Linked DNA regions of Homo sapiens. The protein of the gene in region 2 interacts with the protein of the main gene of each other region in a pairwise test. Each region holds a gene or a part of one and is shown on either strand. Other genes may lie near its edges.

Region 1 (7,622 bases), on a different chromosome or scaffold from region 2:
TGAACTACTATCAACCTGGAGGTCATCAGTAACTGATTCCTAAGTGAAATAAGAATTAAAGCTATAGCAAAATTATGAGATTGACCATTTCTATATTATAATCTTGTACAGATTTATTTTAGAAAAATGAAAACATCAACTTTTTATATGTTTCATATATATAATACATTCATTCAGTTTATTGTTCAGATGTAATCTGATATTTAATATTAAACCTAAAAATAAATATTAAAATATAATACTATGAACATATCTTGTAATCAACAATATGCTAGTCAAGTAACTACTGTGGGATGACAGCAAATAGAAGATAGAGGTGAATATTTTTCTGGTTCCCTAGTGGGGAGGGGCTTTTTTTCCATCTATAGAGGCAAATATATAAATCAAAAGAAAAGACTAGTAAGTCTAAAATACTAGAAATAAAATTAAAGGCAAGTAAACAAATATGGAAATATTGGTTATATATGTATGTACAAAAGTATAGCTATCTTTAATATTTAATAGACATTTCACAAAACAGTACAAATGGCCAATAATTTGAGAAAAAAAATATCGACTTCCCCAGCATTCAAAGAAATGAAAAGTAAAAAACATGCTACTTTTCATCTATCTATCTATCTATTTCATATATATACACACACATATATATAAAAGTTTCAGGTAAGATGGTGCTGATTTATCAACATGAATAAAAAAACTTGAAACATGATCCAACCTGTGATCCACTGCAAAGTATTTATCTTAGGGTAACAATGTGAGGTACACAAAAACCTTCTGTAACAGAATGTCTATGGATATCAATAACAGCAAAACCTTGGAAACAATCTCAATTTCCCAACCACAGGGAAATAGTAATACAAATTACAGTGTATCTATCTACAAGACAAAGCACTATGAAGACACTGAAAGTCATATTTTTGAAGACTATTTAATGTATGGGAATATACAATAAGACAACTGGTCATTTTTTTTAAAGCACAGGAGAAAAGGAACAGAAATATATAAAAATTTTAAGAAACTTTCAAAACACTATTTTTTCATAGTATAAATACTCTACAAGGACTACTTTACACTGTTAAACTATGGATAAAAGCCTTTTAAAAAAATGTCTTGTGTTGAAACTGCCTTCCCCCAAAAACATGTTATAAAGGAATATTAAGTTAAAAAAAAATAGAACTTGGCCAGGTGTGATGGCTCAAGCCTGTAATCTCAGCACTATGGGAGGCCGTGGCGAGCAGATCACTTGAGGTCAGGAGTTCGAGACCAGCCTGGCCAACCTGGAGAAACCCCCTCTATACAAAAATTAGCTGGGTGGTGGTATACACCTGTAATCACATCTACTCAGGAGGTTGGGGCAGGAGAATCGCTTGAACCCGAGAGGCAGAAGCTGCAGTCAGTGAGCCAGGACTGTGCCACTGCACTCCAGCCTGGGTGACAGAGCAAGACTCTGTCTCCAAAAAAAAAAAAAAAAGGAACTTGACTATGAAGTTTAATGTTAATGTCAGATGAGTCACAAGCAATTTTTAAAATCTGAGCTTCCCTAAATTAGTGCTGTACAACTTTAAAATATAGTACAGAATTCATATTAAATACAGCACATCAAGAAGTTATAAAATATTCTAATGAATAAACATTAGAATGCTCTGTAACATATTAAACCCTTAGTAATGAATGTTTCCAGTTGTTAATGGAAAATCAAATGGAAAACATGAAAAAAGGAGTTATTAAGTAACATTTTGTATTTGTCATACAGAAAATTCACCAATTATGGACGTTTCTCCAAAAACGTGTCAAGAGAAAGAGAAAAACAAAAATGCATGACTATGAATCTACCCAAGTCAGAAATTCAAGGCCCTGTCTAAAGACACGTAAGTGTTTATAAAAATACTGGTGAGCTATGTAACATCTACAGAACAAAGCCCATTTTATTCTTTCATCCGGAGGTACATCAGGTACTGATAGTCTCTACACTAAGTGTGTCCAAGGACTAAAAGAGAAGCATACATACACGCAACGATGCAATCTTCTCATCCTGGGTGTCTTCACTAGACCTATTTTCTTGCAGGCTTTTCTCTCCTGTAACTCCTAAGCGAGGGCTAACAAAGAGACAACGCAATTAGTTTGCACCATCTGGATTTGGCTCTCCACGTCTCTGTTCAGACTCTTTAGAATCTGAAAGGCTCTTTAGGGACATCTTTAGGAAGAAGTAAGGACCAGAGTGGTGACTTGCACCAAAACCCAAATGCAGTGACACAATCGTATAGCTCACCGACCAATTTATCTCACTTCCTTTTACGTAAATTGGCAAGCCTTCCCCTTTTTAAAAATAAATCTTCCTGAAGTCAAATTTTGGGGTCCATGTTCTGAGAAGAGCAAAATCAGAGTACTGTATTTGTTTTGCTCCTTGACTGTTAGAATAAAAGGCTACTAGCAGAAAATTCGGCTTGAAGTTTTCTGAGGTGGCAAGCTAGGATCGGGCTGTTACTGGAGGCTACATACCTGAACGGCCCAGAGCCGCTACCTCCCTGCCTGCTCCGCTCTGCTTTCTCTGCAATCTTCGACAAGCCGTGCACTTTGCCTTTTCTCTTCGAACCTGAGAGAGGGCGGCACGTTTCAGGGCAAGAAACCTACCCACCGGCTTCGGGGGGGTCCTGGGCCCGAGGCCTAGCACCCCCGCCCGCCCTCGGTCCCGTCCCGGAGGCAGCTCGGCTGAGCTTACGGTGGGCGAGCCTTGAGCCTGTACCTGGCGGGGCCTCGGCCTTCGCTGGAGAGCCTAGGTCTGGCGTCGGGGTGAGATTGAGCCTCTGACCCTCCCGCTTTTTGCGGGTATAGACCCGTAGCGGCCACATTGCTATCCCACCCTACCCCCAGGCCACGGGTGCCTCTGGACTCTCGATGGCCTGCCTTCCTGAGGATCAGGGCTAAGTCACAGGGAGTCAGCGTCCAGGCGAGGCCCGCGGAGCAGCCTCACAGCAACTAATCGAGCGAAAGCAAAAGCCCCAGAACTGGAGCCGCCGGGCCTCGCTCCCGCGCTTTTATCTCTGTGAGGCCGCGCAGAGGCTTCTGGGAAAACGGAGGAGCGCGGCAGCCGCCCAGCCTTCCTATAGGGGCCCAGTGGTTTCTGGCCTTCTGGCGCAGGTTCCTTCAACTCCAGCGAAACGAGAGTTTTTTGGAAAAAACTTTTTCCTCGTCCAGAAAAAGGTTTAATTCAGCCCCTCCTCCTCCGTCTGAGCACTTAGGTTTCGCCTGTGGCTGCATGCTTAATTCAACTGGGCATGCAGGAGTAAAGGCGTTCCCTCCTTTGGGTGGGCCCAACACTTCCTCTGAGCAAGCTCTCCCTATCAGCACTGCATAAGGCCTTAGTAATGGAGTTTTAGGCCACCAGCACAGGCAGTCTTGTGAGGGGTTGGCCTCAGTGCAGGAAGGTCACAAAGAGGACTGAATGCACCTTAAAGTGACAAGGAGCTTCTCCCTGAGGAATCAACTTCAGTCCCCTGGGCCTGCAACTGACTGGGAAGCTATGGTAATTAAGAGGCTAACCAAGCCTCTGAAGATCCCGGGCTCTAGGAGGCTGCTTCTGGACGACAAACAGTCCCTTAGCCTGTGTCCAGGAGCCATCTCTAGACATCTGGGCATCCTTGTGGTTAAGGTAGAAGATTCCATAGGGGCTCTCCTCCTTGTGCCCTGGGCCTCAACTTGTTGCTGCACCAGACCGATCTGTTTCTTCTTCTTCTTCTTCTTTTCTCCTTTCTTCTTTCTTCTTTCTTCCCCTTCCCCTTCCCCTTCTCCTCTTTTTTTTTTTTTTTTTTTTTTAAGACAGGGTCTGGCTTGTCACCCTGGCTGGAGTGGAGTGGTACAATCATAGCTCACTGCAGCCTCAAACTCTGGGCTCAAGTGATCCTCCCACCTCTGTCTCCCGAGTAGCTAAGACTACAGGCACATGCCACCATGCCCAGCTGATTTGTAAATTTTTTTATAGAGACGGGGTCTTGCTATGTTATCCCAGCTGGTCTTGAACTCTTGGCCTCACGTGATCTTCCTGCCTTGGCCTCCTAAATTCTTGGGACTACAGGTGTGAGCCACCTTGCCCAGCCTTGGTTCAACTTTTATGTAACAAAATTGTGAGTTGTTTTTCAGTTGCCATGAACCCTGAGGTCATGTAACCTGAGCATGCCTAGATGAACCAAGCATGCAGCCACAGGGGAAACCAAGTGCTCAGATCAAGGAGGAGGGACTGAATTAAGAAGTAGATATGGCATGGCAGGATCCAACCGGGTTGAGCTCTGGCTTCATCCCATAGCAGGATCCAGTCAGATCATGCCTCCCAGCATCACCTCATTACAAGATCCAATCAGATCACATCTCTTTACCCTATGCTTATAAAAACCAAACCAAACCCCAGCTTAGGAAGACAGATTTGAGCATTTCCTCCTGTCTCCTTGCCAGCCCACTTGCAATAAAGCTTTTCTTTTCCCAAAAGCCAGTGCCATGGTATTAGCCTCTGCATTCATCAGGCAGTGAGCCCATTGACTGCTCGGTAGCAAACTCTTCTGCTCTGTCAATTAGAGATATGTTGGAATTACCTCCCTTTCTCTCCATACCCTAGGTTGAACCATCTGGCGACATCAGATGAGCATATTATGCACATAACAATAACCATCTTTTTATTCTAAAAAGTGGAAATATTTCATAACATTTAAAATGCAGTTTGAAGAGATAAAACTATGAAAAGCTTAAAGGTTTTTCTGTAACACCTCAGTCTTGTATGTGCGAATATAAGCACATATATATCCACAGTATTTTTGTAATATAATCACTGAATATTTTATTTAAAATCTGCTCACAGAAACATTTATGATAATCAATTTACTAGATAATTAATCATCAAAATCTAGCTTTCTAAAGAACAGATGGTAGGCATTCTTACCTGGTTTTACCTCGGGTTTTGAGTCATTGAATCAATATTTACTGAACACCTTAATCTGTATTAAGCACTGTGGTAGGTCCTGGGGATACAGAAGTGAATCAGAAATGGTCCTTCAGTTAAAGATCTCACAGCCTTGCTGCAGTATAAAGCAATTATCATCTTTCAACATTCTTTCTTTAGTCGTGTCCATAATATGCTGGCAGGCAGTCTCTAGTTTACAAGCCAGGCCTTTATGCTCCCCCCTCTCCCTTTGGGGGCTGTTGTGAAAAAAATTCAGACTTCTTAAATGACATTTGGGAGGTCTAGAGCCTGGGGTGCCTTAGGCCCAGAAATGGAAGAAACATTGCAAAATGAAAATAGGTTAAACCAAAAGCTGGTCTGCCATTTGGTGGTCCTGTTCCCTAGAACTCTGTCTCACTATACTGAATTACATTCACTGATATGTCATCAAGTAATTCCCATAGGTTTGTGGGAATTAACGTATCAGGTTTCAAAACCAGAAATAAACTTTGATATGATTTCTTTAGCCAAAAGGGTCCTTAGAGATGATCTAGATGCCCCCTCATTTTGCCACTGAGGAAACCAGAGTGTAGGGAAGCTATTTAAAACAGATGATTGGCATAGGGAACATGGTTCTCCTGGCATCTGGCTGCTGCGCTTGTCATACTCCCATTCTTCCTAACACATGGCTGGGAGAAAAGTAGGGGGAGCAAAGAGAGGAGCTTGAATTCCTTGGTGGCAAGGGGAAGTGAAGGAACTAGAGACAGACTTGGTCTCTTTGATACTTCACCTAGAGTCAACCTATAAAGGGGGAAAGAAACGTGTCTCCTAAAAAGGATGAGACAGGGCAGAGATATCTCAAATTCAGTCATCTATCTCCCCCTACTCCACTTCCAAATCTGCAAACACCAGTGCAAGTGTTTAATCATGAGTGTTCAAACTTCTTCCATTTCCCCATTGCACTGCTTCCATACCTAGACCCAAAACTCAGTAATCAGCATTTCATTTCAACACATGGTGGATTTGACTAGGCTTGGAACAGTCATGAAGATATTAACTTCCATGGGAAAACAAATGTCAAAGAGATTTCTGAATAAATCTTTTGGGAAAACAGCCAGTTTGTGGGTTTGAGATTCACTGGAGCCCAAAGTAAATCCTTTTGAATGATGTTTTCTTATGGAGTAACCCACTGAGCATCTTTGTGGTGCTATCCGTGAACTATGGGAATCCAACCACAAACCAGTTTATTTTTGCTTGGATGACAAGAATGGAATAAATTACAGTGAGAGAGGAAATATACCTTCAGGTATTGCAGTCTTAATGCTATGCAACACAAGAAAAAGGACCAAGGGGATTTTCCTTAACATTTCTTTAGCATCTGCTATCAGCCAGAGCCGCACTGGGCATAAAACTTCAAGCAACTCAGTCTACGTGGGGGTGGGGCAAAAGGACCATCAACCAATCAACCACGTGGGAAGCTTCTCAGAGAAAAGGATGCTGGAATCTGAGTTTTAAAAGATGAATGGTTGGAGTTAGGGGAATTAGAGGAAAGGGCATTCTAGGAGAAAGGGACTATATGTGTAAAGGCAGGTAGGCACAAGAAAGTATGATGCTTTTAGGGAACTACAAAAGTAATGAATATGATTGGAGCCGAGGCTCCATAGAGGAGGGAGTAGAAGAGATGCTAGTCCCTGTGTGCTGAACCAGCGAGTTTGAAGTTTATCCTGGAAACTATGGGAAGTCACTGAAGGACTATTAAGCAGGAAAGTGGCATTTTCAATCTAGATTTTCAATTTAGAAAGATTGCCCTGGCTGAAATGTGGATGGCGAAATTTGAGGATGCTGGAATGGAAACATGAAGGCTAGTTAAGAAAGCACTGTAATATTCCAGACAAGAGATAAGGGTGGCACAAACTACACTAATAGCTGTAACAATAGGGAGGAATGGATGATAGCAAACATATGGAGAAGGCAGAATCTGTCTATCTTGGACACAGCAGAATTCATTATTTTAAGAAATTGTATCCATTATTCTGAATATGAGTAAAAGACATGGAAATTATATTTTAAAGGCCACCATCATGGAAAATTTGAAGACAGTTATTTGTTATGTATTCATAAAAATGATTTAAATCCAGGAGATATCTGACAATAGCAAAAATTCCAACAGAGGCTTGAGCAAAGGAGCTCTTCTCTGGATGGACCATAATTTCTTGGAGTTTGTGGAACTTTAACAGAGGACGTAGAGTACGGATGTAAAGTATACTGATTGGTAATGCAGCTTGGTACTATGTTTATCATAAGCAGTAACTGTGATTGATAATTACCAAATATACTCACATGAGGGTATTATATTATGCAAATATATAAAATAGTAATTATAAGCAACTTTGAGAAATGAAAAATCTTTTATTTTTTACAAAAATTTTCATAAATGCATTTTATATTTAATATGCATGCTACTATAACAAAGCAACTGAAAATGTAATTACAGTTAAGATACTTTTATGCATATTTAAAAAGTAATATTTTAATCCCCTCGATTTTTAAAAATTGAAAGTGGAATAAGCAATTCTTCAAAAAATATCCATTCTCCCCCATGCAACTGTTGCAATGATTTAACAAGGAAAATTAGAATAATCGGTCAAATGAATGTTTAAAAGCCACTGTCACCTCATGAAACCCTTTCCATTTG
Region 2 (4,273 bases):
GGGATGAAGTGAGGTGAATGACACAGGCATTGTGACATAGCGTTAGGCTACTATTGTCAGGAGGATAAACTGCTTCAGGTGATCCTGGATCACAGAACCATGGTGGTATCAATGGTTGAAAGTCAAGAGCAGAAAATATTAATGACTAACGGGCAGGTAGTCTATAGTATAAATATGTTGGACAAAAGGAGGATTCATGTCCCAGGCGGGAGGGCATGGGATTTCATTATGCTATTTGGAACAGCACACAATTTGAAACTTATGGATTATTTCTGGAATTTTCCATTTAACATTTTTGGACCACGATTAACTGTGGGTTAATTGCATTCAAGGAAAGTGAAACCACAGATAAGGGGTTTATGAGACCACTGTGTCTCATAAATTGATTGTGGGAATGTAAAATGGTACAGCCAATCTGGAAAACAGTTTCCTAAAAAATTAAATGTATGCTTCCCATATGGGCATTACTCCGGAGAAACAAGAACTTAAATTTACACAAAAACCTGTAGGAAGTGTTCACTTCATCTTTATTTGTGGTACAGTCATCCATACTAGAGAATACCACTTAGCAATAAAAAAGAAATGAGCTATTGATAGGTATAACTGCTTGGATGATCTTAAGGGCTTTATGCTGAGTGAGAAAAACCAAAGGTCATACACTATATTATTCCATTGCTACAACAATATATAAGTGACAATATTACAGAGATGAAGAACAAATTAGTGATGATGAAACAGTTCTATGTTGATTGCAGTAGTTACACAAATTCACACATATGATGAAATAGAACTATACACATGCATTGTATCCTTGCCAAATTCCTGTTTTCTGCATTGTAGTTACATAGATGTAAGTAACCATTGGAAGAAATTAAAGACACATGCATCCATGTGGTAAGTAAATGGACAACAAACTGTGGAATCCTATCCAACAATAAAAATTAGAAAAATCATTAAAAAAACTCTCATGGGTGATGCCCACGATGGATTAATGGGTATCAAATTTGCCCTCCTCCAACAAACTTTAAAATAGAAAAAGATAAAAGGTAACTCTATGCAGACATTGGACAAAAGTGAAGGACGGTGATTCTTTTGTTTTCTTTTTTTGAGTCAGAGTCTTGCTCGGCTGCCCAGCCTGGAGTGCAGTTGCGTGATCTTGGCTCACTGCAACCATCATCTCCCAGGTTCAAGCAATTCTCCTGCCTCAGCCTCTGAGTAGCTGGGATTACAGGCACCTGCCATCATGCCCGGCTAACTTTTGTATTTTAGTAGAGACGGGGTTTCACCATGTTAGCCAGGCTGGTCTCGAACTCCTGACCTCATGATCCACCCGACTTAGCCTCCCAAAGTGTTGGGATTACAGGCATGAGCCACCATGCCCGGGTAGAAGTCTCTTTCTTTAAGACCCTTCATGAGCATGAGGGCTGCCTGACAAAGTAGGCAGGACTGTGATTCTTTAAAGACATGAAATTAACTCCATAGTCACCCAGTTTTATGCCTGGGGGCACTCTCCAAAACTGGACACAGAGAGTTAAGCTCAAAAAGAACAGTGGTCTTAATGGGCACAGAAAGATCACAATTTAGGGCTGTTGAGAAAACTGAATTGTGATGCAGGGTACAGAAGTGGAAACTCCACTGAAAAAGAGCTCCAGAAATCTGCACGAGGTGCCCAAGAACAGAACTTTCTGCAACTTGTATCTGTGACATCTAATGTGGTAGCCACCAGTACCATGTGCTACTAAGCACTTGAAATGTGGCAAATGCAAGTAAGAAACAATATTTTAAATTAATTTTAAATAGCTACAACTTGTGACTACTGTATCAGCCATTATAGCCCTAGAAGTTGGCTGAACAGTTGGCTGAACAGTAGGCTGCAAATGTGCAGAGCAAAATTCTGAGACATGACAGAAGCCTATGAGCTGAACAGAGTACAGAGGTGGCAAAAATCAGACGTGGCTCTGACCAAGCAGAATGGAGAGCCTTTGCTGAACCATATGGGCTTTCAGTTTAGACAAAGAAAGGCTACACTTAAGCTGGGCACAGTGGCTCACACCTGTAATCCCAACACTTTGGGAGGCTGAGGTGGGTGGATCACCCTGAGGTCAGGAATTCGAGACAGCCCTGGCCAACATGGTGAAAATCTGTCTCTACTAAAAACACAAAAACTAGCCAGGCGTGGTGGCAAGCAACTGTAATCCCAGCTACTCAGGAGGCTGACGCAGGAGAATTGCTTGAACCCGGGAGGTGGAGGTTGCAGTGAGCCGAGATCACACCATCGCACTCCAGCCCAGGCAACAAGAGTGAAACTCTGCCTCAAAAAAAAAAAAAAAGAAAAGAAAAGAAAAAAGAAAATAAAGAAAAAATATTGCTAAAGCTTTGGAAAAGAACTGTTGGAATCTGTGGCCTCCTTGAGTGAGGTCTCACCCACCCCTAGGTTGATTGGTAAAAACTACAGTTTTGTCTGGCTGTAGCTAACTGAAAAACTAGCAACTTTGCCGTAAGAGGAGTCTTGATTTACAGCAGAGGTATAAACCTACAACTTTGTAAGTCAAAAGTAAAAAAATCACTTAGGAATGGACAAGGAGTATCTGTAGTTGCTAACCAAAGGTTACAGTCCTAGTTCTTGAAGAGCAACAGAGCAGCCAGACATTTAACAAGGTCCTGGAAACAGAAGGGCAGAAAAGGGTAACATGAGCTCTCCAAACATCTTTGGCAAACTGAAATGATGCATGCACAGGGGAGACTCAAGAGAGCATGGCAAATGTAAAAACCAAGGGGAATTTGGGAACTGCCTCCTACAATGAATGCATCCCCCATCCCACACAGAACAACCAACAGTGGGTGGAAGGCTTATAGACTCAAGTGTTTGATCTTAACCTTTGTCCAAATGATTGGCTGACTGCTAAGCTATGCAGACACAGGAACTACCCCTAGCAAGCAAGAATAAATATTGAAATAAAGAACTTAAAAACTGAGCACAGACAGCAATAACTTCACATCATATATAAGATAGATTCCACAATTTGAGTCCAGTCAAAATGCTAAATTTAAAACAATACAAATCCCTTAGATATAAAACAAAATTGAGTTGCTACAATATGCTACCTAAAATGTCCAGCTGTCAACCAAAAATTATTAGACATGTAAAAACATATGAAAGTGAAATATACTAAAGGAAAAAAAGCATTCAGTGAAAACTAAATCTGTATGGGCCCAGATACTTGATTAGTCAAGCCTTCAATAAGACTTCATAACAAATATATTCAAAGAAATAAAAGTAAAAAAAAAATTAAAAATGACTCAATAAAAGAGAAATCACAATAGAAAATTATAAAGTATAAAAAAAGAGCCATCACACTTCATTCTTCCTAAGTCCTACACCAGAGTTGCTTTAAATGTGTGTATTTAATGGTTAAATAAGACCTGAAAAGGGAGTTGGCCTAAAAATATTTTTACCGTAAAACATCAATTTCTTCAGAGTTAATGAGAATTATATGCTAACCATACCAAAAACCTTGATTAGAATTTTTAGCTTAGATGTATTGATTGATATTAAAAAGGGAAAGTTGAGGCCACATACAGAAAGCAATGGCGAAGGACACTGCCTCCAACAGAAAATATGAACCAAAAAGCATAATGGAAAAACATTTACATGTAATATACTAAATAGATGTCATGCCAACACAGACACACAAGGTGAGAATACCATGTGATAATGCAAGTAGATTGAAATGCTACCGGTGCAAGCCAAGGAATGCCAGAAATTGCCAGTAAACCACCAGAAGTTAGGAATAAGGAAGGATTCTCTCCCTTACAGGTTTTCAAAGACATCACGGCCTTGACAACACCTTGATTTCAGACTTCTAGCCTCTAGAACTGAGATAATAAATTTCTGTTGCTTTAAGTCACTCATTTTGTGGTATTTTGTTACAGCAGTTCTAGGAAATTAATACAAACATGCCTTTTACCACAGTTCTCTCCCATTGGATTATTTAATAATAAATGATTTAAAATTAGTATTTGGAAAAGATGTTTTTTAATGAGTAGACATATTAATCAGGTCTCTTTTGACACAGAAATGTTCTATATTTCATTTTCATATTCTTGTCAAATTATAAAAATAATATCATAAATATGGACATCGCTACAAGCTATTATGTACAGTCACTGAAAAATCAGAAAAAACATGTGAGTTAGAAATGTTTATCAAATACAAGTCTACAGAAAACTGAATAAAATTTTTATTTTAAAACATCACAAGTAATTACAAAGA

What was found. The genes of interacting proteins can lie anywhere in the genome.
Region 1: the proteins of CENPC (region 2) and MEIKIN interact in a two-hybrid assay, tested with the Homo sapiens proteins (one study listed by IntAct).

Annotation. Positions count from the first base shown.
Region 1 is NC_000005.10:131,942,657-131,950,278, forward strand, and holds the start of MEIKIN (meiosis-specific kinetochore protein), read right to left. Parts: upstream 3,008-7,622; 5' UTR 2,850-3,007; coding exon 2,744-2,849; intron 2,594-2,743; coding exon 2,500-2,593; intron 2,097-2,499; coding exon 2,009-2,096; intron 40-2,008; coding exon 1-39. UniProt on the Homo sapiens protein: Key regulator of kinetochore function during meiosis I: required both for mono-orientation of kinetochores on sister chromosomes and protection of centromeric cohesin from separase-mediated cleavage.
Region 2 is NC_000004.12:67,468,258-67,472,530, forward strand, and holds the end of CENPC (centromere protein C), read right to left. Parts: 3' UTR 505-4,273; downstream 1-504. UniProt on the Homo sapiens protein: Component of the CENPA-NAC (nucleosome-associated) complex, a complex that plays a central role in assembly of kinetochore proteins, mitotic progression and chromosome segregation.